Linked DNA regions of Homo sapiens: region 1 is linked to region 2. Evidence: fine-mapped expression QTL. A gene starts in region 2. The other region holds a variant in brackets. All regions are shown on one strand. Distances are from middle to middle.

Evidence for each region. PIP is the estimated chance that this variant, and not a neighbour inherited with it, causes the effect. A credible set is the group of variants that fine-mapping cannot tell apart.
Region 1: its variant is the best candidate, but not a certain one, in a credible set for the expression of CCDC8 in fibroblasts (GTEx, PIP 0.59).

Annotation. Positions count from the first base shown.
Region 1 is chr19:46,465,762-46,477,358 of GRCh38, reverse strand. PNMA8A (PNMA family member 8A) reads left to right here and starts at 5,796. Exons shown (of 3, transcript NM_018215.4): 1 at 5,796-6,022; 2 at 6,245-7,626; 3 at 8,782-10,856. The coding sequence starts at 6,324. The coding sequence ends at 8,798. The variant G/A (reference allele first, on the strand shown) is at 6,309.
Region 2 is chr19:46,410,429-46,421,656 of GRCh38, reverse strand. It overlaps CCDC8 (coiled-coil domain containing 8 subunit of 3M complex), which reads left to right and starts at 8,093. Exons shown (of 1, transcript NM_032040.5): 1 at 8,093-11,228. The coding sequence starts at 8,847. The coding sequence ends at 10,463. RefSeq lists a silencer at 5,037-5,126 and enhancers at 5,553-6,385, 6,386-7,219, 8,886-9,719.

The DNA of each region.
Region 1 (11,597 bases), 56 kb before region 2:
GCTGGGTGTGGTGGCTCATGCCTGTAATCCTAGCACTTTGGGAGGCCGAGGCGGGCGGATCACGGGGTCAGAAGATCGAGACCATCCTGGCTAACATGGTGAAACCTCATCTCTACTAAAAATACAAAAAATTAGCCGGGCGTGGTGGCGGGCACCTGTAGTCTCAGCTATTTGGGAGGCTGAGGCAGGAGAATGGCGTGAACCCGGGAGGTGGAGCTTACAGTGAGCCGAGATCGCGCCACTGCAAGCCAGCCTGGGTGACAGAGCGAGACTCCGTCTTAAAACAAAACAAAACAAAACAAAGTACAAAAATTTGCCAGGCATAGTGGCGGGTCCCTGTAATCCCAGCTACTTGAGAGGTTGAGGCAGGAGAACTGCTTGAACCCAGGAGGCAGAGGCTGCAGTGAGCCGAGGTCGCGCCACTGCACTCCAGCCTGGGTGACAAAGTGAGACTCAGTCTCGAAAAAAAAAGAATTGATATTTATATAACTAATCCTCATGCATCCCGTGCCATTCTTCATCAAATCTTAATACTATGCTAAATTTATTTACACCTTTTTTTTTTTTTTTTTTTTTTTTTTAGCATTATTGGCTGGACTCAGCAGCTCATGTCTGTAATCCCAGCACTTTGGGAGGCCGAGGCAGGCGGATCACTTGAGGTCAGCAGTTTGAGACCAGCCTGGGCAACATGGGGAAACCCCTTCTCTACTAAAAATACAAAAATTAGCTCAGCATGGTGGCACGTGCCTGTAATCACGGCTACTCAGGAGGCTAAGGTAGGAGAATCGTTTGAACCCTGCAGGTGGAGGCTGAGTGCGCCACTGCACTCCAGCCTGGGGGACAGAGTAAGACTCTGTCTCAGAAAAAAAAAAAAAAAGAGATTTATATAATTAACCCTTATGTATCCCTTGCCATTCTTTATTAAATCTTAATACTATGCTAAATTTATTTACACATCTTTAAACAAAATTATTGTTTAAATAGGCTGTGTCCTACCTCCCATATGACTTGCCCTCTTCTTCTCCCCAGAGATAGTCACTTGGAGGATTATTGCATTTAAAAATCCAGTATTTATCAAAACTCAGTGTCTGTCATTCCCTTGCATGCCAAAATAAATAACTGAAAAAGAGAGAAGAAAAAACAGACAGTGTCTAATTCTAACTGAGTCACTGTGTGACTCAGTTTCCACTGCAGCAACTTTGTCTGCAGCCTGGATCACAAACAAGCTCCCGCATTTGTAAAACTACTTGGCAAACATAGCAAAAGCCTCTGAGATTCAGCAAACATCCATTCCATTTCATTTTAGTTATGATGTTTTACAATCCACTGCTGGTATAAATTTACTTTTTATCCTGTCTAGATTGACGATTTTCTTCTTCTTCTTTTATTTTTTTATTATTATTTTTTTTTGGTCTGACAAATCCTTAGCAGAATTTTCAAACACACTGAGATGTTTTGTTTTCTCTTTGAAGAGAAAGTTCCAGAACTTTGATTCTGTGCTCATGCACTGGGGTTGGGTGGCATTCCTGAAGGGGCAGCCAGGACTGTTAGGAATATTGGCTCTGCAGAAAGCTGAAACCTGGCTTTTGAGGCAAAGCTGAAGGCATCTCTCTCCCTCCCTTGCCCCCCATCTCTCCATTCTGTAACGCATTATTTGTTCACTTTTGTAGTAAAATACACATAACATAAAATTCACTATTTTAACCTATATTTATTTTTCAAAAAATAATTTACTTTTTTTTTTTGTTTGTGAGACGGAGTTTCACTCTTGTTGCCCAGGCTGGAGTGCAATGGCACAATCTCAGCTCACCGCAACCTCCGCCTCCTGGGTTCAAGCGATTCTCCTGCCTTAGCCTCCCAAGTACCTGGGATTACAGGCATGCACCACTATGCCCGGCTAATTTTTGTATTAGTAGTAGACACAGGGTTTCTCCATGTTGGTCAGGCTGGTCTTGAACCCCTGATCTCAGGTGAGCTGCCTGCCTTGGCCTCCCACAGTGCTGGGATTACAGGCGTGAGCCATCGTGCCCAGCCCGTCTTCATTTTTCTACCTTCACTCCTACTAGCGTTCCTGGACCCAGATGTCCTGGATGCAGAGGTCCCTCCTGTTACGGTGGTAGACGCATCTCATTCCCATGGGGGTCCCAAATACTTCTCTAGAGTAACTTTTTTTTTTTTTTTTTTTTTTGAGACGGAGTCTTGCTCTGTCGCCCAGGCTAGAGTGCAGTGGCGTGATCTCGGCTCACTGCAAGCTCTGCCTCCCGAGTTCACGCCATTCTCCTGCCTCAGCCTCCTGAGTAGCTGGGACTACAGGCGCCCGCCACCACGCCCGGCTAATTTTTGTTGTTGTTGTTGTATTTTTAGTAGAGACAGGGTTTCACCATGTTAGCCAGGGTGGTCTCGATCTCCTGACCCACGATCCGCCCGCCTTGGCCTCCCAAAGTGCTGGGATTACAGGCGTGAGCCCGCGCCGGCCTCTCTTTCTTTTTTTGAGACGAAGTCTCGCTCTTGTCCCCCAGGCTGGAATGCCATGGTGCAGCCTCGGCTCACCATGTTGGCCAGGCCATTCTCCTGCCTCAGCCTCCCGAGTAGCTGCGATTACAGGAGCTTGCCACCAGGCCCGGCTAATTTTTTTGGATTTTTAGTAGAGACGGGGTTTCACCATGTTAGCCAGGATGGTCTCGATCTCCTGACGTCCAGATCCACCCGCCTCAACCTCCCAAAGGGTGGGATTACAGACGTGAGCCACCGCGCCCAGCCTCACAGGAACACTCTTGTTCTTGCATCCTTGAGCTTCCAAATAAGAAGTTCAACGATCTACCCTCTGGTTTTCATGCTGTGAGGAAGCCCAAGCCACATCAGTGCTTCCATCAACATTTCCCAGCTGAGCCCAGCTTTCAAAGGATTTCAGCCCAGGCACCAGACATGTGAGTGAAGAAACTCCCAGATGATTCTAGCTCTCAGTCATTTGAGTCACCCCCAACTGTCACGGGTACGACTAGGTGCGGCGGGTGTTGTGGGCAGTAAAGGTATTTACCAAGACAGTTGTAGGTAAAGAAAGGCAGATTTATTAGAGAAGATATGAAAATACATTGCACGGTTGCAATGGGCAGCACAGCAGAGAAGGGGGCTGTCTGCAAAAAGGCAGGGACTGGAAGTTTCATAGGGGTATGCTGGAGGGGGCTACATGCAGAAAGAGGTCATTGTGCCCATGGGGGATTGTGATTAGCCATCTCTCAGAAAAATTGTTCATTGTTCTTCCCAACCTGGAATGCTGTGAACCCGGGAGGTGGGGCTTGCAGTGAGCCGAGATTGCGCCACTGCACTCCAGCCTGGGCGACAGAGCGAGACTCTGTCTCAAAAAAGAAAAAAAAAAAGTGTTCCAGTGAATGAGGAAGAAGCTGCGTGCCCTTCTGTAACATAGTCTGAGAAGCCACATAGCTTCCTTTCCACTAAACTCCATTGGTTAAAGTAGTCACAAGTCTGCTCAGATTCACGAGGAGGGGACACAGATCGTCACTTCTCAATAGAAGTGTCGGAGAATTTATGGCTATGTTTTTAAACCACTGCCTAAAAATATACACTCATTCTTCCACTGATATGTAGAATTTCAACATATAAAGCACATGAGATTTAAAGACTTTAATCATAGCTAGAGTGTTTATTGGAATATTCGGTGTGAATTATGTGAATAATCAGAGGTTAACGATTTGAATGACACAACTTTTTAGCACAAAATATGATGGAAACTTGGGCAATCACACAAGTATTGATGATGCCCAAATTTAGGAATGCCAGAGATGACAGTGAAATGAACATTTGGCTATTTGGCCTTGCAAATGTCAGTTTCAAAAATGAACCCAAAGAACAGATTTTGGTTGAATACCAAGGCCCAAATTGTACTTCCATGCATCTTTCAGATGAGATCCCCCCGAATCTTCAAAACTTCCAAATCAGGAAGATTTTTTATTAGAATTCCTATTACAGAGAAAAGAAATAAGCTCAGCGGGGTCAAATTATTTCTCTAAGATCACACAGCCAGGAAGGGACATTGGTAGGTGGATCAGTGAGGGACTGGCAAAAAAAAAAAAAAAAAAACAGATGGCCAGTCCAACCGAGTCTCATAGGAGTGCTTAATTAATTAGTTTATTTTTTTTGAGACAGGGTCTCCTGGGTTCAAGCAATCCTCCCACCTCAGCCTCCCGAATAGCTGAGACCACAGGTGACCCCTATCACACCTGGCTAATTTTTTGCGTTTTTGGTAGGGACGGGGTTTTGCCATGTTGCCCAGGATGGTCTCGAACTCCCCAGCTCAAGTGATCCGCCCTCCTCAGCCTCCCAAAGTGTTGGGATTACATGCGTGAGCCACAGCACTGGGCATTAATAAACTATTAACAAAGTTCTTGCTCATGGGCAGCAAGGTTGAGGTAGGAGGCCCAGGGGACTCCACTGAGGATCACATTGAAGACTGGCCAAAACCTGGAAAAGGCACCGAAAGCCTCTCTCCATAAGACATGCCTGCCAGCACCATGACAGTTTACCATTGCCATGGCAACACCCATAAGTTACTGCCAATTTGCTAATTCTGAAAACCCACCCCTTAATTAGCACGTCATTAAAAGTGGGTATAAATGTGACTGCAGCCTTGCCCCGAGGTGCTATTCTCAGCACACTGCCTAGAGGGTAGCCCTCCTTGTTAGGTTTTGGAGGGAAGGTGAGGGTTAAAGACACACAGACAGAAGGCGGCTCAACAGCAACTCAGGTATACTGCAGACACCTGTGGAAGTGGGTAACCAGCCTAATGCCAGAGCCCACTGCTGCTTATAGGCTGGGGGTACTTATAGTTATGGGTGGGAGGGGTCTGAGCAGTATGGTTTGCTGCCCAGCAGGATGTTGATAAGATGGTTCCATGATGAGGCGGTTCTGGCCCTTGTTCTGGTGGAATGTGGTGTTCTCTGCACTTTCTCCCAGCAGAATATGATAGGGATGTTTCTTCAGTTGGGCCTTTGCACGATAGGGTATGATAATGTTTCTTTAGCTGGGCCTTTGTCCGCCTTGTGGTCAGGTGATTAGGCAGGATGTTTCTCATTGGCCCGAACCCCCGTGGAATATTTCACTTTGACCAAGATCTGCAAAATAGTCAGGGCTTACAAAATGGTTGCAGTTTGGACTAACACTTCTCTGTAGGGGCAGTCACTGAGCTGTAACATTGTCCCCTGCCTGGAGGATGCCAAGAACCTGCCCTGAATCACGTTGAGGAAACAAGAAAAGGCGAGGCATTATCCTCATGCTAGAAGGGGTCGGGGAGGAGACTAAGAAATTTCTAGAAGTTTCTGGAAATTCCTGGAAGAACCCAGCAGCTTGTAAGAGAGAAGGCTACAAGCCCAACAGGAACTGCACCTGCTGTTGGAGGAACCCAAGAAGATTAAAGCCTCGTTTTCCTCCTTTCTTGATTTCTAGTGTCTCCCAAGAGTTGCGTTGGGTGAATCCAACAGGTGGGGCAGAGGATAATACAGTCAGTGGGTGCAGCCATAGGTGTTGGCGCTTCTCATCGACCTAACCCCCGTTCGCGAGGCCCACTTGGGTTGAAAGAGGGCCTCCGTGGAGGCGCCACCGGAGTGTATCCAGACCCGCTTGCTCTGCGACCTGAACAGGCCACTCTTGCACCCGGCTCCCTAGGTCCAATTGCAGCGCCGGCGCGCCGGCCGGGCTCAGCCCTAGCAACCCACGCCCGGTTGCCATGGAGACGTCGGCACCTGCGCAGCCCAAGACCCCCGAGCGGCGGTGCGGGAGCCAGTGCGCAGGCGCGCGCTGCGACGCCAACCTCGGCTTCTCGCCGCTAACGGCATCGAGTCTGGACGCCCCGTGACCCGCCTGGGCCGGAGCGGGGGCGGACGGCGCCTTCTTGGCCCTTTCTGCCTCTAGCAGCGGCGCCGGGGTAGCCGGAGCCAGCGACTGGGAAACGGCTGCATTCCACTGCGTCTCCTTGGCCTGGCTGGGCGGTCGGAGGCTGATCTGCCAAGTAAGTCCCGGCTGGGCAGGCGGAGCGTCAGGCCCGGGGGAGGGTCCTAGGGCCTTTTGCTGCAGATTCAGGGACACGTGTGAGCACCGGGGCCTGGGTTGGGGAGGAGGGTGTTGGGAAAGCGCCAGGCCTCCTGCAGGCCAGCCGCGGAGGGGGCAGCTAGGATCTGTGAGCTTGGTCATCTTCCTGGGAACGTGACCTCGCTCCCTTGTCACCTTGCAGGATTACTGTTTGGAGACCGCTGCAGCCCACGTCCACCTGATAGACTATTTACTACACATAGTAG[G/A]TTCAGAGCCGCTAAATGTCCAAGACCATGGCGATGAACCTTCTGGAGGATTGGTGCAGGGGAATGGAAGTGGACATCCACAGGTCCTTGTTGGTCACAGGCATCCCAGAGGACTGTGGGCAGGCAGAAATTGAGGAGACCTTGAATGGGGTCCTCTCCCCACTGGGCCCGTACCGCGTGCTCAACAAGATTTTTGTGAGGGAAGAGAATGTTAAAGCTGCCCTCATTGAGGTTGGTGAAGGTGTGAATCTGAGCACCATCCCCCGTGAATTCCCAGGAAGGGGTGGTGTCTGGAGAGTGGTCTGTAGAGACCCTACCCAGGATGCCGAGTTTTTAAAAAATCTGAATGAATTCCTGGATGCCGAGGGGCGCACCTGGGAGGATGTGGTCCGCCTGCTCCAGCTCAACCACCCCACCCTGTCCCAGAACCAGCATCAGCCCCCAGAGAACTGGGCAGAAGCTCTGGGGGTGCTTCTGGGAGCAGTGGTGCAGATCATCTTCTGCATGGATGCCGAGATCCGCAGCCGGGAGGAAGCCAGGGCCCAGGAGGCCGCTGAATTCGAGGAGATGGCAGCCTGGGCTTTAGCAGCAGGGAGGAAGGTGAAGAAAGAACCGGGGCTTGCAGCAGAGGTGGGTTCTGCCTTAAAGGCAGAGACCCCCAACAACTGGAATGCCACGGAAGACCAGCATGAGCCTACCAAACCTTTGGTTCGCAGGGCTGGAGCTAAGTCTCGCTCCAGGAGAAAGAAGCAGAAGAAGAACTCCAGGCAGGAAGCAGTGCCCTGGAAAAAACCCAAAGGCATCAATTCCAACAGCACAGCTAACTTGGAGGATCCTGAGGTGGGTGATGCTGAAAGCATGGCGATCTCAGAGCCGATCAAGGGCAGCAGAAAGCCCTGTGTGAATAAGGAGGAGTTGGCTTTGAAGAAGCCCATGGCGAAATGTGCCTGGAAGGGTCCCAGAGAGCCACCTCAGGATGCCCGGGCAGAAGCCGAGAGCCCAGGAGGCGCCTCTGAGTCAGACCAAGATGGTGGCCATGAAAGCCCACCAAAGAAGAAGGCCGTGGCCTGGGTGTCTGCCAAGAACCCCGCTCCCATGAGGAAGAAGAAGAAGGTGAGCTTGGGCCCTGTCTCCTACGTCTTGGTTGACTCAGAAGATGGCAGGAAGAAGCCGGTGATGCCAAAGAAAGGGCCAGGCTCAAGAAGGGAGGCATCAGATCAGAAGGCCCCTCGGGGCCAGCAGCCTGCCGAGGCAACAGCCTCAACCTCTAGGGGTCCGAAGGCCAAGCCAGAAGGCTCTCCTCGGCGTGCCACCAATGGTGAGAATGATAGCAGAAGTGACTGGGCTCGTGCCAGCAAGTGGATGAGGCAGGAGGAGCAGGAGTGGCAGGTGGGGCAGAGGAGCCCGAGGAGGTGGTGGGTCAAGCGGGTGATGAGGAGGACCCTGGTGCATGGCAGGAGGTGGATGACACACCAGTTGAGGAGGGTAAGAGCCCAGACCGCCCTTCCAGGAGCCCCTGAAGGCCGATGCTGGAGACATCTGGTGGGCAGGAGGTGGCAGAGGAAACCCACAATGAGTGTCACTGTGGTCATTTGCCACTCCATCTGACCCATCTTCCTTGATGAGAATTTAATGGTTTGGGCCCAGGCTTGGTGGCTCATGCCTGTAATCCCAGCACTTTGGGAAGCCAAGGTGGGCAGATCGCCTGAGGTCAGGAGTTCAAGACCAGCCTGGCCAACATGGTGAAACCCCGTCTCTACTAAAAATACAAAAAATTAGCCGGGTGTGGTGCCACATACCTGTAATCCCAGCTACTCGGGAGGCTGAGGCAGGAGAATCTCTTGAACCCGGGAGGTGGAGGTTGCAGTGAGCCTAGATTGTGCCACTGCCCTCCAGCCTGGGTGACGAGAGTGAGACTCTTGTCTCCAAAAAAAAAAAAAAGAATTTAATGATTTGGGAGGCCAAGGCAGACAGATCACCTGAGGTCAGGAGTTCGAGACCAGCCTGGCCAACATGGTGAAACCCCATCTCTACTAAAAATACAAAAATTAGCTGGGCATGGTGGTTTGTGCCTGTAATCCCAGCTACTGGGGAGGCCAAGGCCTGGGATTGGCCTCCAGACATCTGCCCACCAGATGTCTCCAGCATCGGCCTTCAGGGGCTCCTGGAAGGGCGGTCTGGGCTCTTACCCTCCCTGAACCTGGGAGGTGGAGGTTGCAGGGAGCCAAGATCACACTGCTGCACTCCAGCCTGGGCGATAGAGTGAAACCCTGTTCCCCCCTCCCCCCAAAAAAAATATTAATACTTTGGAGTTATGGTGTTTGCAGGGTATGTGGCTTTAAGGGTGAAGTTTTCTAGAGACCTGGCTGGGGAATAGAAATGTTCAGGGACCCAGAAATTTCTTGGAAGTAATGCATTTCCTAATGACACCTCTCTGCTTCCCTTCTTGATCTGTTCTCTCATTTATTTGCAGAATCCAGAAAGGTTTGATCTGGGGGACCACCCATACTGAGGAGTTGAAAGAACAAGGAAGAAGTACCAAGTCAACCAAGTTCTCTCTTGTCACTGAATAAGACTTTGGACTCTCTTAGGGCCCCTGTTGATAGAGATCTGGCCCTGAGGTAAACGATAGGTGAGGTCTTGGGTGGGAGGGAGTTGGGGAAGGGAGGTGGATCTCTATGCCCTTTTCTCTACCAGGCCTGCCGTTTCACCGCCTTCTCTACTCACCTTCTCTTCGGAGGCAGGAGAGTTGGTAAGAGGATTGGGAAAATTCTAGAACATTCATTCCCCTTTATGCATGAGCAGGGTCACTGTTACACTCATCCATGTTCAGCTTTTCTCCCCCACGCCTTGCTCCCTCCTCGGAATGGTCAGCGACCTCTGCAGGCCCTGGCATTTGGAAGAGCTGGGTGGCCCTGCCATATTCTTCCTCCCGCCTTCCTCTCGTGTAACCAGCGGGGTAAGTTAAGCCAGGACCTTCGCTGCAAACCTGGTTTTATTGCTCCTTCAGTCTCCAGCTTCCATCCTCCAGTTATCTAGCCAGGAGGTCCCAAGAGTTAGTTTTAGGGAAAAAGAATGTCTGCCTAGACCTCAAAGTCTTTGAGTTTTAGAGTCTGTTAGTAAAAATGGCACTTTGATTCCCATTTGGGATGAGCCCTCTCAGGAATCCTGTGGGGAAGGGGGGTGATTATAGGGAAGGACGCAGGCATTCCTAGGTCCCCAGCTCTAATTCCATCCATCTACCCAACTGTCACCATCTTTGCACCAAACTGTCACCATCTTTGCAGCAGAAGGTCACTACTCACATTATAGTAAGAGGGGAAAAAAATCTTTTAAAACTTGGCTGTTGGCCGGGCACGGTGGCTCACGCCTGTAATCCCAGCACTTTGGGAGGCTGAGGCAGGTCGATCACGAGGTCAGGCGTTTAAGACCAGCTTGACCAACATGGTGAAACCCCATCTCTACAAAAATTAGCTGGGCGTGGTGGCGCGCGCCTGTAATCCCAGCTACTCAGGAGGCTGAGGCAGATGAATTGCTTGAATCCAGGAGGCAGAGGTTGCAATGAGCCGAGATTGTGCCACGGCACTCCAGCCTGGGCAGCAGAGTGAGACTCTCTCTCAAAAAAACAAAACTTGGCTGTTAATGTCTGCCCTCTGAATTCAGACACACTATATTAGACCAGACCACCATGTGTCATTGTGTGTGTGTGTGTGTGTGTTTGCGTGCGCATGTGTAGAGGAGAGAGCAGGGTCCCTGAGATAATGGTTTCCAAACTGTATCGTAGCCGTCCACAAAGATGTAATCCAAATCTATTTTTCTCACGTGTTTAAAAAACTGAAAAGTGACTACTCAGATATGTTGGAAGTCACATCGAAGACTATCAGAATATTACCTTGTGTTCATAGGTTAACTTGTTTTTGTACACGTCTTAGTTATTTCAGGCATCTCTTTGCTTAAAATTGAGTTTCTTGTAAATGTGACTGATGAGCGAGGTTAGAAGTGGAAGAAATTCCTGTGCATGTTCTATAATCTGACACCCTGAAAGCAAGTTTCCTTTCGTCATTCACATGCTCTTGTTCTGCCGTGACTGTTCAGGTGTATGGTAGTAAGTAAATGTATTAACATGGTGAACAGTAGTAATATTCTATCATAGAGTATTAGCCCTTGCAAGTTTTCAGGGCGTCTTTTCCGACTTCAGTTTTTGTGATAAAGAATGTGAACAGTTGTTAGATGTTCTCAGTGATTCAACTTTAAAACAAATTTCTCGTGATGATTCATTTCAAAATCCTGAGTGAGTCTGACTGAAAAATACGAGAGAAAAGAGAGTGGTTTCCGTTTGCAGCTACACAGCTGTGTGCATCGACGTTCTCCTGGGGTGTGTGCCAAGCGAAACCCAGGGGTGAATTGGATTCTTGAAGAGACCAAAGCCTGTAACTGTCCAGCTTCTAATTTCAAAACGGGTCCATTAGGGCTTCGTTGTGTTAACAAGTTGACACCATGACTAGTAAATGTAAACGTGTATGTATAAAATAAAGTTTAGCAAATTAAGTGTCCTGTTAAGTCTCTTGTAGGTGAGGATTGCATGGACTATTAAATTTGAGGAAAGGGTTCCCCTTTCCTCAAACAGTGCCCCCAGCCAGATGTGACTGGTTATCAGATACGGGTTCAAGCTTTGAGAATTGTTAATGATCCATGAGAGAAGAAGCCGTTTGTCCTCTTTGCGAATGGCTTTCCACTGATGTGGAAGGATGTCCCACAGATCTTGGGGTTTCTAGAATAGGTATCTGGTGACGCAAATTACCTCAAAGTACCAGTTTATTTTTTTATAAACAGCTGGAAAATGAAAACCTTTCCCTCCCTTCCTATTCCCTCACACAGAAGCCAAGGTCTTTTTTTTTTTTTTTTTTTGAGATGGAGTTTCGCTCTGTCACCCAGGTGGGAGTGCAGTGGCACAGTCTCAGCCCACTGCAGCCTCTACCTCCTGGGCTCAAGTGATCTGCCCACCTCGGCCTCCCAAAGCGTTGGGATTACAGGTGTAAGCCACCATGCCAAGCCAGAAGCTGAGGTCTTTTAGCTAAAAATATAGTTTTCTTCTGGCCCTCCCCTGCCCCTCCCCAGGAACTCCTGAACCAGGGTGGCCACTACATCAGTCACTTGGAATCTGTTCAAGGTACCATTTCGTGGCTCTACCTGCTGATTCAGGATCTCTTCGGGGTTGTACATAGTTATCTGCGTCTTAAACAGTTTCTCCTGAGAATTTTTTTTTTTTTTTTTTGAGACGGAGTCTCG
Region 2 (11,228 bases):
TTTTTTTGTATTTTTAGTAGAGACGGGGTTTCACTGTGTTAGTCAGGATGGTCTCGATCTCCTGACCTCGTGATCCGCCTGTCTCGGCCTCCCAAAGTGCTGGGATTACAGGCGTGAGCCACGGCGCCCGGCAGCAGCTTTATTTCTAAGAACCAAAAACTAGAAACAACTCGATGGCCGACGACAGGTGAATGAATAAACAAACTGCAATGTATTCATGCAACAGAATATGACCTAGCAACAAAAAAGAATGTACTGGCCGGGCGCGGTCGCCCTCCCAGCACCTTGGGAGGCTGAGGCGGGCAGATCATGAGGTCAAGAGATCGAGACCATCCTGGCCAACATGGTGAAACCCTGTCTCTACTAAAAAGACAAAAACTAGCTGGGCGTGGTGGCGGGTGCCTGTAGTCCCAGCTACTCGGGAGGCTGAGGCAGAAGAATTGCTTGAACCGGGGAGGCGGAGGTTGTGGTGAGCCAAGATTGTGCCACAGCACTCCTCCTGTCACAGTTTGGTGACAGAGTAAGACTCCGTCTCAAAAAAAAAAAAAAAAAAAAGGAATGAACCTCAGATGCGTACAGCAACATCGGTGAACCTCAGAAGCGTTATGCGGAGTCAAAGAAGTCAGACCAAAAAGGACACACACTATATACTTCCTTTTACATAAAACTAAAAAAACACTATAGGGACAGAAATCAGAGCAGTGGTTGGGCACAGTGGCTCACGCCTGTATTCCCAGCACTTTGGGAGGCCACAGTGGGTGGATCACTTGAGGTCAGGAGTTTGAGACCAGCCTGGCCAACATGGTGAAAGCCCGTCTCTACTAAAAATACAAAAATTAACTGGGCATGGTAGCGCATGCCTATAATCCCACGTACTCCAGAGGCTGAGGCAGAATTGCTTGAACCCGGGAGGTGGAAGTTGTAGTGAGCCAAGATGGGGCCACTGCACTCTAGCCTGGGCAACACAGCGAGACTCAGTCTAAAAAAAAAAAAAACCAAAAACCCCACCACTTCCAAGGTGCCCGTCACCCATATGTAATTCCTAGGGCGCAGGACACTGTACAAGAATTCTTTCGCTTCAGGGATAATTATTCCTGAGAGACAAGGTCACAGAATAAAATTAGCATGTTTTAATTTGGAATTGCCCTCACTGGACTCAGGGGAATTCGTGGCCACACAACGGGCTCTGTATTCGTTTCCTGTGGCTGTTGTGACACATTACCATATACTAGATGGCTTAAAACATCACAAATGTATTCTCTCATGGTTCTGGAGGACAGAAATCCAAAATCAAGCTGTTGGCAAGGCTGAGCTCCTTCCAGAGGCTCCAGGCGGAGGAACTTGCTTGCCTCTTCAAGCTTCCGGTGGCTCCAGGAGTTCCTTGGCTGCTGACTGCATCTCTCCAGCCTCTGCCTACAGGGTTACATCCACATCGCCTCCTCCACTCTGTACGCCTTTGCCTCTGTGTTATCTTCCTTGGCCTCCTTTTTCTTTTTCTTTCTTTCTTTTCTTTTCTTTTTTTTTTTGAAACAGAGTCTCACTCTGTCTCCCAGGCTGGAGTGCCTTGGTGCGATCTCGGCTCACTGCAACCTCCGCCTCCCGGGTTCACGCCATTCTCCTGCCTCAGCCTCCCGAGTAGCTGGGACTACAGGCACCTGTCACCGCGGCCGGCTAATTTTTTGTATTTTTGGTAGAGATGGGGTTTCACTGTGTTAGCCAGGATGGTCTCGATCTCCTGACCTTGTGATCTGCCCGCCTCGGCCTCTCAAAGTGCTGGGATTACAGGCGCGAGCCACTGTGCCCAGCCCTTGGCCTCTTTTTTCTAAACTTTTTTGAGACAGCGTCTCACTCTGTCACCCAGGCTGGGGTGTAGTGGTGCGATAATGGCTCACTGCAGCCTGGACATCCTATGCTCAGATGCTCCTCCCACCTCAGCCTCCCGAGTAGATGGGACTACAGGCTTGCACCACCACGTCCAGCTAATTTTTTGTACTATTTTTGTAGAGATGGGGTTTTGCTATGTTGCCCAGGCTGGTCTTGAACTCCTGGGCTCAAGCGATCCACCCCACTGAGTGTGGAGATTGGGGCCAGGCATGGTGGCTTCCATCTGTAATGCCAGCACTTTGGAAGGCTGAGGTAGGAGGATCACTTGAGCCCAGGAGTTCGAGATTAGCCTGGAAAATATGGCGAAACTCCAACTTTACAAAAAATTAGCTGGGCATGGTGACATGGGCCTGTAGTCCCAGCTACTTGGGAAGCTGAGATGGGAGGATAGCTTGAGCCCAGGAGGTCGAGGCTGAAGTGAGCAGAAATCGTATCACTGGGCGACAGAGCAAGACCCTGTCTCAAAACAAACAAACAAACAACAAACAAACAAACAAAAAGTGTGTGGAGATTGGAATCTAATAAACCTGAGTGATTCAAAGCTTGGCTCTGCCACTACCTAGCTGTGTGACTTTCCTTGGACTCAGTTTTTTTTTTTAATCTGAAAAATGGGAATAACATTTGCTTAAGGAAGGGTTCTAAGGACTGAATGAGAAAATGCACAGGGCCAAGGATAAAGTAGGTGCTCAGTAAAAATGAATTATTATCAGTATCACGTTCCTGGCTTGAAGGAATAAAGATGGAAGCTGTCGTGACAAACAAAAACAGACTGGCAAGCACTGATACAGAAGGACATTAAGTGAAAACACATTTTATAGTAATAAATCTAGTGCAATTCTCAGCATTCATTCAGTTAATAAATATTTGTAGCTCCTACCTGAAGTGTTCTAGATGCTGAGACTTCAGCAGTGAACAAACCAGACTCATATCCCAGACCTCATGGGGATAGTATTCTAATAGGGTGAAACAATAAATAAGTACATACAAATAGGCCCAGCGTGGTGCCTCTCGCCTGTAATCCCAGCACTTTGAGACCCAGAGGCAGGAGCATCAGTTGAGGCCAGGAGTTCAAGACCGGTCTGGGCAACATAATGAGAATACCTCTCTACAAAAAATTTTTAAAAATAGCCAGGCATGGTGGCACACACCTGTAGCCCCAGACACTCAGAAGGCTGAGGTGGGAGGATTGCTTGAGCCCAGGATTTCGAGGTTACAGTGAGCCATGATCATGCCACTGCACTTCAGCCTGGGTGACAGAGTGAGACCCTGTCTCAAAGAAAAAAAAAAACAAAAACAGAAAGTGGTAAGTGCTGTGATGAAAATAATTTAGGATGATGGGGGAAAAAAATCTCTGTGAGATAAATTCTAAAATTAACATAAAAAAAAAAGCCAGGTGAAGTGGCTCACGCCTGTAATCCCAGCACTTTGGGAGGCCAAGGTGGGTGGATCACCTGAGGTTCGAGATCGAGACCACCCTGATCAACATGGAGACATCCCGTCTCTACTAAAAATACAAAATTAGCTGGGTGGGTTGGCCTGTAATCCCAGCTGCTCTGGAGGCTGAGGCGGGAGAATTGCTTGAACGCGGGAGGTGGAGGTTGTGGTGAGTCGGAGATCGCGCCATTGCACTCTAGCCTGGGCAATAAGAGCAAAACTCCGTCTCAAAAAAAAAAAAATAAATTAATAAAATAAAATAAAATTAACACATACACTAATGCAAGCATTTTTTCTCTGGAAAAATACAGAGATATTTAACTGGTTACTTTTTGGGGAGAGGCTGGAAGGTGGGGTTTGGGGAGAAGAATCCTTTTTTGAAAAAAATTTACCTTTCTGTAACTTTTGCTTTTTCTGACCGTGTATCCTTTTTTGAGACAGGGTGTTACTCTGTTGCCCAAGCTGGAGTACAGTGGCACCACCTCAGCTCACTGCAACCTGTGCCTCCCAGGTTCAAGCGATTCTCCTGCCTCAGCCTCCCTAGTAGCTGAGATTACGGGCGCCTGCCATCGTGCCCAGCTAATTTTTGTACTTTTAGTAGAGACGGTGGGGTTTCATCATATTGGCCAGGCTGGTCTCGAACTCCTGACTTCAGGCGATCGCCCGCGTAGGCCTCCCAAATTGCTTGGATTACAAGCTTGAGCCACTGCCCCTGGCCCGCGTGTCCCATTTTTTTTTTAAATGGCAACAAAATGTAGCTGGGTAGAGGGATTTCAGCCGTGTTTTGTTTCTCTTCCCCATTCTTTTCCAACTTTCCATTTATTTTAAACAAATGCAAAAGTGAGGCTACAGTTCTCGTTTTTATTATTTTATTCTGTGATGGCTGGAGAAGGGTCTCACCTGCCAGAGATCTGTGCAATTAAAAACACCCACAGCTGAACCGTTCAGGGGCTGGCAATTTTTTTTTTTTTTGAGATGGAGTCTCGCTCTGTTGCCCAGGCTGGCGTGCAGATGGGCGATCTCCGCTTCCTGCAGCCCTGACCTCCCGGGCTCAAGCGATAGGCCCACCTCAGTCTCCCGAGTAGCTCAGACCACAGGCGCACACCATAATATTCGGCTAATTTTTAAATTTTTTGTGGAGACCGGAGTCTCGCTATGTTGCCCAGGCTGGTCTCCAATTCCTGGGCTCAAGCGATCCTCCTGCCTTGGCTTCCCAAAGTGCTGGGATTACAGGCATGAGTCACCGCCCCCGGCCGGAGGTTGACGATTTTTGCAAAAATATGGAACATTTGGGATTTTCATTTCTTAGATTATCCTCCTTGCGCCGCTCCCTGCTCCCCCACCAAATAAAAAAAGAAAAACAAACAAAAAACAAAACAAACAAACAAAACGAAAGCCCTTTTATGACTACAAAACCCAAACGTCTCATCTGCGAGGTCACCACTTGGAAGGCACTGTCATGAGCCCTCAGACTTGCGATTCTTTAATCAGCATTCCTGAAACCTAGGTGTCCTTAGGATTTTTCATTTTTTGGTTTCTACAAACAGCTTTTCAGGGAAGCTGGCTTTGGGGATGAGGCCTAAGGGAGGCACCAGGGGCAGAAAAGAGGAGCTCCTGCCCTCGTCCTCCGTGGCGCCCCCACCCCCACCATCTCCCTGCAGCCTCGCCTCCGCCTCCGCCCCACCCGCTTAGTTTTGATCCGCGCGGAGGAGCGCGTCCCGTGGTTGCCATGGAGACCGCCGGACTGCGGAGGCCACAAACTGTGCGAAGGGGGAGGCGAGGGGCGGGGCCGCGGGAGGCCCGGGGGCTGAGCGCGGCGGCTGGGACTGAGCCAGGGAGAAAGAGGAGAAAAATCCAGCGAAGCCCAACGACCTGGCTCTGCAAGAGAAAAACAACCTGAATAAGCCGGTAATTGTGAACAGGCCGCTCGCTGAGACCTTAACGTCCCCTAAGCCCCCACATCTTTTCTTTCCCTCTGGCCCGTCTCTTTTTCCTCCGTTCCCTCTTTAAAAATTTGCCTGGTTCCTTTATGAGTTAAATAAGATCACATTTATTTATTTATTTGAGACGGAGTCTCGCTCTGTCGCCCAAGGTGGAGGGCAGTGGCGCGATCTTGGCTCACTGCAACCTCCGCCTCCCAGTTCAAGCGATTCTTCTGCCTCAGCCTCCCCAGTAGCTGGGATTACAGGCATGTGTCACCATGCCCGGCTAATTCTTATATTTTTGTTCGTTTCTTTTTTTTGTTTGTTTGTTTTTGAGACGGAGTTTCGCTCTTGTTGCCCAGGCTGGAGTGCAATGGCACGGTCTCAGCTCACTGCAACCTCTGAATCCCGGATTCAAACGATTCTCCTGCCTGAGCCTCCGGAGTAGCTGGGATTACAGGCATGCGCCACCAAGACAGGCTAGTTTTGTAGTTTTAGTAGAGGCGGGGTTTCACCATGTTGGCCAGGCTGGTCTCAAACTTCTGACCTCAGGTGATCCACCCGCTTCAGCCTCCCAAAATGCTGGGATTACAAGCGTGAGCCACCGCGCCCGGCAATTTTTGTATTTTTTAGTAGAGATGGGGTTTTGCCATGTTGACCAGGCTGGTCTCAAACTCCGGACCTCAGGTGATCCGCCCGCCTCAGCCTCCCAAAGTGCTGGATTAAAGGCGTGAGCCACGGCGCCCAGCCTGAGATGGAGAATTTTCAAAAGAGTAGAGACAGATCGGACCTAAGTTTTTAAAAGATGCCCCCAGCTTCTGGATGGGGCCTGGATTGCAAGCAGTGATGGGGAGGCGGGAAGCCCAGTGAGGGGGCTTTGTACACATCCAGGCAAGAGTGGCTGCAAGTATTGTGGCTGCTAAGTGGTTAAATGGTGCAACACATTTAGGAGAAGGGGATTAGCTGTGTCTTTAGCGTCAGCTAGTGTTTTAAATGCTAGTGCCCAAGATCTGGTTCTAATATTATATTAGATCCACCACTCAGAGCTGTGCAACTTCAGACCAGCCTCAGTTTCACCGTCTGTAAAAAGATGATTGATGGCACTGGCCTTACCATGTACCTCTGAGGGTTCCTAACAACGAGGCCTATTCAACATGTCTCTGGATGCCTGGTTCCAAAGATGTGGACCAATGCTAGTCGCATGTCCTGTAGCAGGAGGAGCCACGGACAAAACCCCTCAGACACTGGGTTAAGGAAGGATTTGGCTTTTTCGGCCGGGAGCTTCGGCAGACTCGCCTCTCAACTGGCGGGAGCTTCGGTAGACTCGCGTCTCAAGAACCGAGCTCCCGGCCGAATGCGACTAGCATTGGTTCACATCTTGATTCTTTTTTTTCTTTCTTTCTTTCTTTTTTTTTTTTTGAGACGGAGTCTTGCTCTGTCGTCCAGGCTGGAGTGCAGTGGTGCGATCGCGGCTCACTGCAACCTCCGCCTCCCGGGTTCAAGAGATTCTTCTGCCTCAGCCTCCCGAGTAGCTGGGACTACAGGCACGTACCACCACGCGCGGCTAATTTTTTTGCATTTTTAGTAGAGACAGGGTTTCACCGCGTTAGCCAGGATGGTCTTGTCTTGATCTCCTGACCTCGTGATCTGCCCGCCTCAGCCTCCCAAAGGGCTGGGATTACAGGCGTGAGCCACCGCGCCTGGCCATCTTGACTCTTTGGTCGACACAAAAGGCAGACTATTCTGGATTCAAATCCAAACTCAACCACTCCCCATGGCTGTGACCTTGAGAGTGTGGTTTTATGTCCTTGGGCCTCAGTTTCCTCAGCTGTCTAATGGGAATTGTACTCATGCTACCAGTCTCCTGTTATAGCAAGGATTTCCTGAGTTCATTCATAGAAAGCACTGGGAATGGTGCCTACTACATAGGAAGCGCCTCATAAACCGTGCCTATCCTTAGCCATCTCATTCTTTTTTCGAAGTTGCAAAATATTTCACTGTAAGATACTACCATAAAATAGAGGCAGTCTCTACTCGTGAACTTTTAGGGTTTTTTGTTGTTGTTTATTTGTAGGGGTTTTTTTGCACTTTTGTTTTTTTGAGACAGTCTCCCTCTGTTGCGCAGGCCGGAGTGCAGTGGCGCGATCTCTGCAACCTCCACCTCCCAGGTTCACGCCATTCTCCTGCCTCAGCCTCTCGCGTAGCTTGGGACTACGCACGCGCACCACCACACCCGGGGTAGAGACGAGGGTTTCACCATGTTGGGCAGGCTGGTCTCGAACTCCTGGCCTCAAGTGTTCCACCCACCTGGGCCTCCCAAAGTGCTGGCATTACAGGCATGAGCCACCGCGCCTGGCCATGAACATTTGGGTTTATTCATCCCCTCAAAAATATGTATTGAGCCCTGACCTGCCAAGCGCCACAGTGGGACTGTTGCAGTCAGGTACCCATTTCTCTACCCACGCATATAGGTGTACGGGTACCGATAGTCGCGTGAATTTAAAATGCTAATCTGTGGTGCCAGTGGCTCTCAAAAAGTAGAATCCACTAGCACACCCACCTCCCGGACTTGGCTGGAAACTTGCACATTTCGGATGGCAGGTTTGGGAACCGCTGCCTTTCAGGAAAGGTGCTGACGTGGGCCACTGCCGCTTCGCTGGGAAGCAATGGGCCCAGCTAGGCCCGGGGCGCGGCCACACCCCTGTGGGGGAGGGGAAGGAGGCCGCCCCGAAGGGAGTGGACAGCCCCCCTGTCAGTCTTCCAGAGTCTGGGAGTGTAAGATGAGACGGGGGAAGGTGGGCCTCATTCTGGCGGAGGGCGAGGAGGAACTTCCTGCCCGCGCGCTCCACGGTGCAGAGCTCTAAGCGCGCGGGCTGGCAGGCTGCGGCGCGTCAAGGTCAGCCTGGAGCTGGGTGGCGGCCTGCCTGGGGGCGGGGGACCCTACTGGAGGCCCGGGCTGGGGCCTCCCAGCGCCTCGGCCATATTGAATAGCTTCGACTGGACCGTCTTTGTCTGCGAAGTCCTGTCCCAAGTTCCAGCCGCGTCCCTGGGGCCTGGGGCAGGAAGAGTCGCTGGCAGCCCGCGCGCCCCAACTTGGAGCTGGGACACCACGTTTCCAGCTTGGAGTGGGCCTTGAGCCTTGGGACTGACCTCGCCCCCGGCTCACGTAGGCATCCTGGAAATTGATTCCCCCAAGTCCTTGGTGGGGGAGCCGGACTTGGTCAAGACTGTACTTGTTGCAGGCGAAGAGATTGGAGGCGTTTGGCTCGTCCCTGGCTAGGGAGGTGAGACTCTCCGGTCAGCGTTGCTGGAACTCCCCCCATCCAGTCCCTCCCTCAAGACTAAGGGCTACAGTAGTTTGTTGGGGCTCATTGCCCCCTCACCCCAGATATCACCCTGGAGATCTTAAAGACTCTCGAGAAAAGCCACGTGGGGGGCTGGTTCCCCTGGGGCTTCCTGCCGTCCCCCGACTGCCTCATTCTTTGGAGCGTCCCCGATGTCTGCAAAGATGTGGATTTGGACGTCCTCGTGGAAGCCCTAAAGCCCGTGGGGACATTTAAGAAGATCGGCAAGGTGTTCCGCAAGGAGGAGGACTCCACGGTGGGGATGCTGCAGATCGGGGAGGACGTCGACTATTTGCTCATCCCCCGGGAGGTCAGGCTGGCTGGGGGCGTCTGGAGAGTCATCTCTAAGCCCGCCACCAAGGAAGCAGAATTTCGGGAGCGGCTGACCCAGTTCCTGGAAGAAGAGGGCCGCACCCTGGAGGACGTGGCCCGCATCATGGAGAAGAGCACCCCGCACCCGCCCCAGCCCCCCAAAAAGCCCAAGGAGCCCCGAGTGAGGAGGAGAGTGCAGCAGATGGTGACTCCTCCGCCCCGGCTGGTCGTGGGCACGTACGACAGCAGCAACGCCAGCGACAGCGAGTTCAGCGACTTCGAGACCTCCAGAGACAAGAGCCGCCAGGGCCCGCGGCGGGGCAAGAAGGTGCGCAAAATGCCCGTCAGCTACCTGGGCAGCAAGTTCCTGGGAAGCGACCTGGAGAGTGAGGATGATGAGGAACTGGTCGAGGCCTTCCTCCGGCGACAGGAGAAGCAGCCCAGCGCGCCGCCTGCCCGCCGCCGCGTCAACCTGCCAGTGCCCATGTTTGAGGACAACCTGGGGCCTCAGCTGTCCAAAGCGGACAGGTGGCGGGAGTATGTCAGCCAGGTGTCCTGGGGGAAGCTGAAGCGGAGGGTGAAGGGTTGGGCGCCGAGGGCGGGCCCCGGGGTGGGCGAGGCCCGGCTGGCCTCCACCGCAGTGGAGAGCGCAGGGGTATCATCGGCGCCAGAGGGCACCAGCCCGGGGGATCGCTTGGGAAACGCGGGAGATGTTTGTGTGCCCCAGGCTTCCCCTAGGCGATGGAGGCCCAAGATCAACTGGGCCTCCTTTCGGCGCCGCAGGAAGGAGCAGACAGCACCCACAGGTCAGGGGGCAGACATCGAGGCTGATCAGGGGGGAGAGGCTGCAGATAGTCAAAGGGAAGAGGCCATAGCTGACCAGCGGGAAGGGGCTGCAGGTAATCAGAGGGCAGGGGCCCCAGCTGACCAGGGGGCAGAGGCTGCAGATAATCAGAGGGAAGAGGCTGCAGATAATCAGAGGGCAGGGGCCCCAGCTGAGGAGGGGGCAGAGGCTGCAGATAACCAGAGGGAAGAGGCTGCAGATAATCAGAGGGCAGAGGCCCCAGCTGACCAGAGGTCACAGGGCACAGATAACCACAGGGAAGAGGCTGCAGATAATCAGAGGGCGGAGGCCCCAGCTGACCAGGGGTCAGAGGTTACAGATAATCAAAGGGAAGAGGCCGTACATGACCAGAGGGAAAGGGCCCCAGCTGTCCAGGGTGCAGATAATCAGAGGGCACAGGCCCGGGCTGGCCAGAGGGCAGAGGCTGCACATAATCAGAGGGCAGGGGCCCCAGGTATCCAGGAAGCTGAAGTCTCAGCTGCCCAAGGGACCACAGGAACAGCTCCAGGAGCCAGGGCCCGGAAACAGGTCAAGACAGTGAGGTTCCAGACCCCTGGACGCTTTTCGTGGTTTTGCAAGCGCCGGAGAGCCTTCTGGCACACTCCCCGGTTGCCAACCCTGCCCAAGAGAGTCCCCAGGGCAGGAGAGGCCAGGAACCTCAGGGTGCTGAGGGCCGAGGCCAGAGCAGAAGCTGAGCAGGGAGAGCAAGAAGACCAGCTGTGAGGTGAGGGCTAGAGACAGCCCACGGGCCCTCCCTCCAAGTGTGGGAGGGAGAGATGCTCTGCCTCTGAACTTCAAAGTGGAGGTGGAGTGCTGGCCACGTCTCCACCTAACAACCCTCTTTATTCTCTTGTTAAAGTTTTGTTCATGCTTTGATTTTTTTTTAAATTTTTTAGAGACAGGGTCTCACTCTGTTGCCCAGGCTGGAGTGCAGTGGCATGATCATAACTCACTGCAGCCTCAAACTTCTGGCCTCAAGTGATCCTCCTGCCTCGGCCTCCCAAAATGCTGGGATTACAGATGTGAGCCACCACACACACCATCTGATTAAAAAAAAAAAATACTGATTCCTTGTAGCAACCCAAAAAATGTAAAGAAAGAATTCGACACAATGGGGTTGCGTCACCTATAGTTTTCATTTCCTCAAATGCAACTCAAGGTGCTCAGCTTGATAAAGGGAGAGAGGGAGGGCAGGGGAGAAACTGACTCCTTTTTCCATCTCTTTTTTGCCTGCACACTTAATGTGGACTGCCTCCTTGGACTTAAAAAGAGTTGAGCCAACATGCAAATCAAAAAACATTTATGAACTGATTTCTTAGCTTTGGACTTGACAACTGACGAATGCTCTGGGGGTGACCTGGCCCTTGCTGTCCGTTCCACTCCCATCCTTGATGATGGAGACACCTGTGTTTATGTTGTCACTTCGCTTGCCATCCTCATGCCCCGGGCTCTGCTGGTTTGGAGGGGACAGGGCCCTTGGTTTGCACA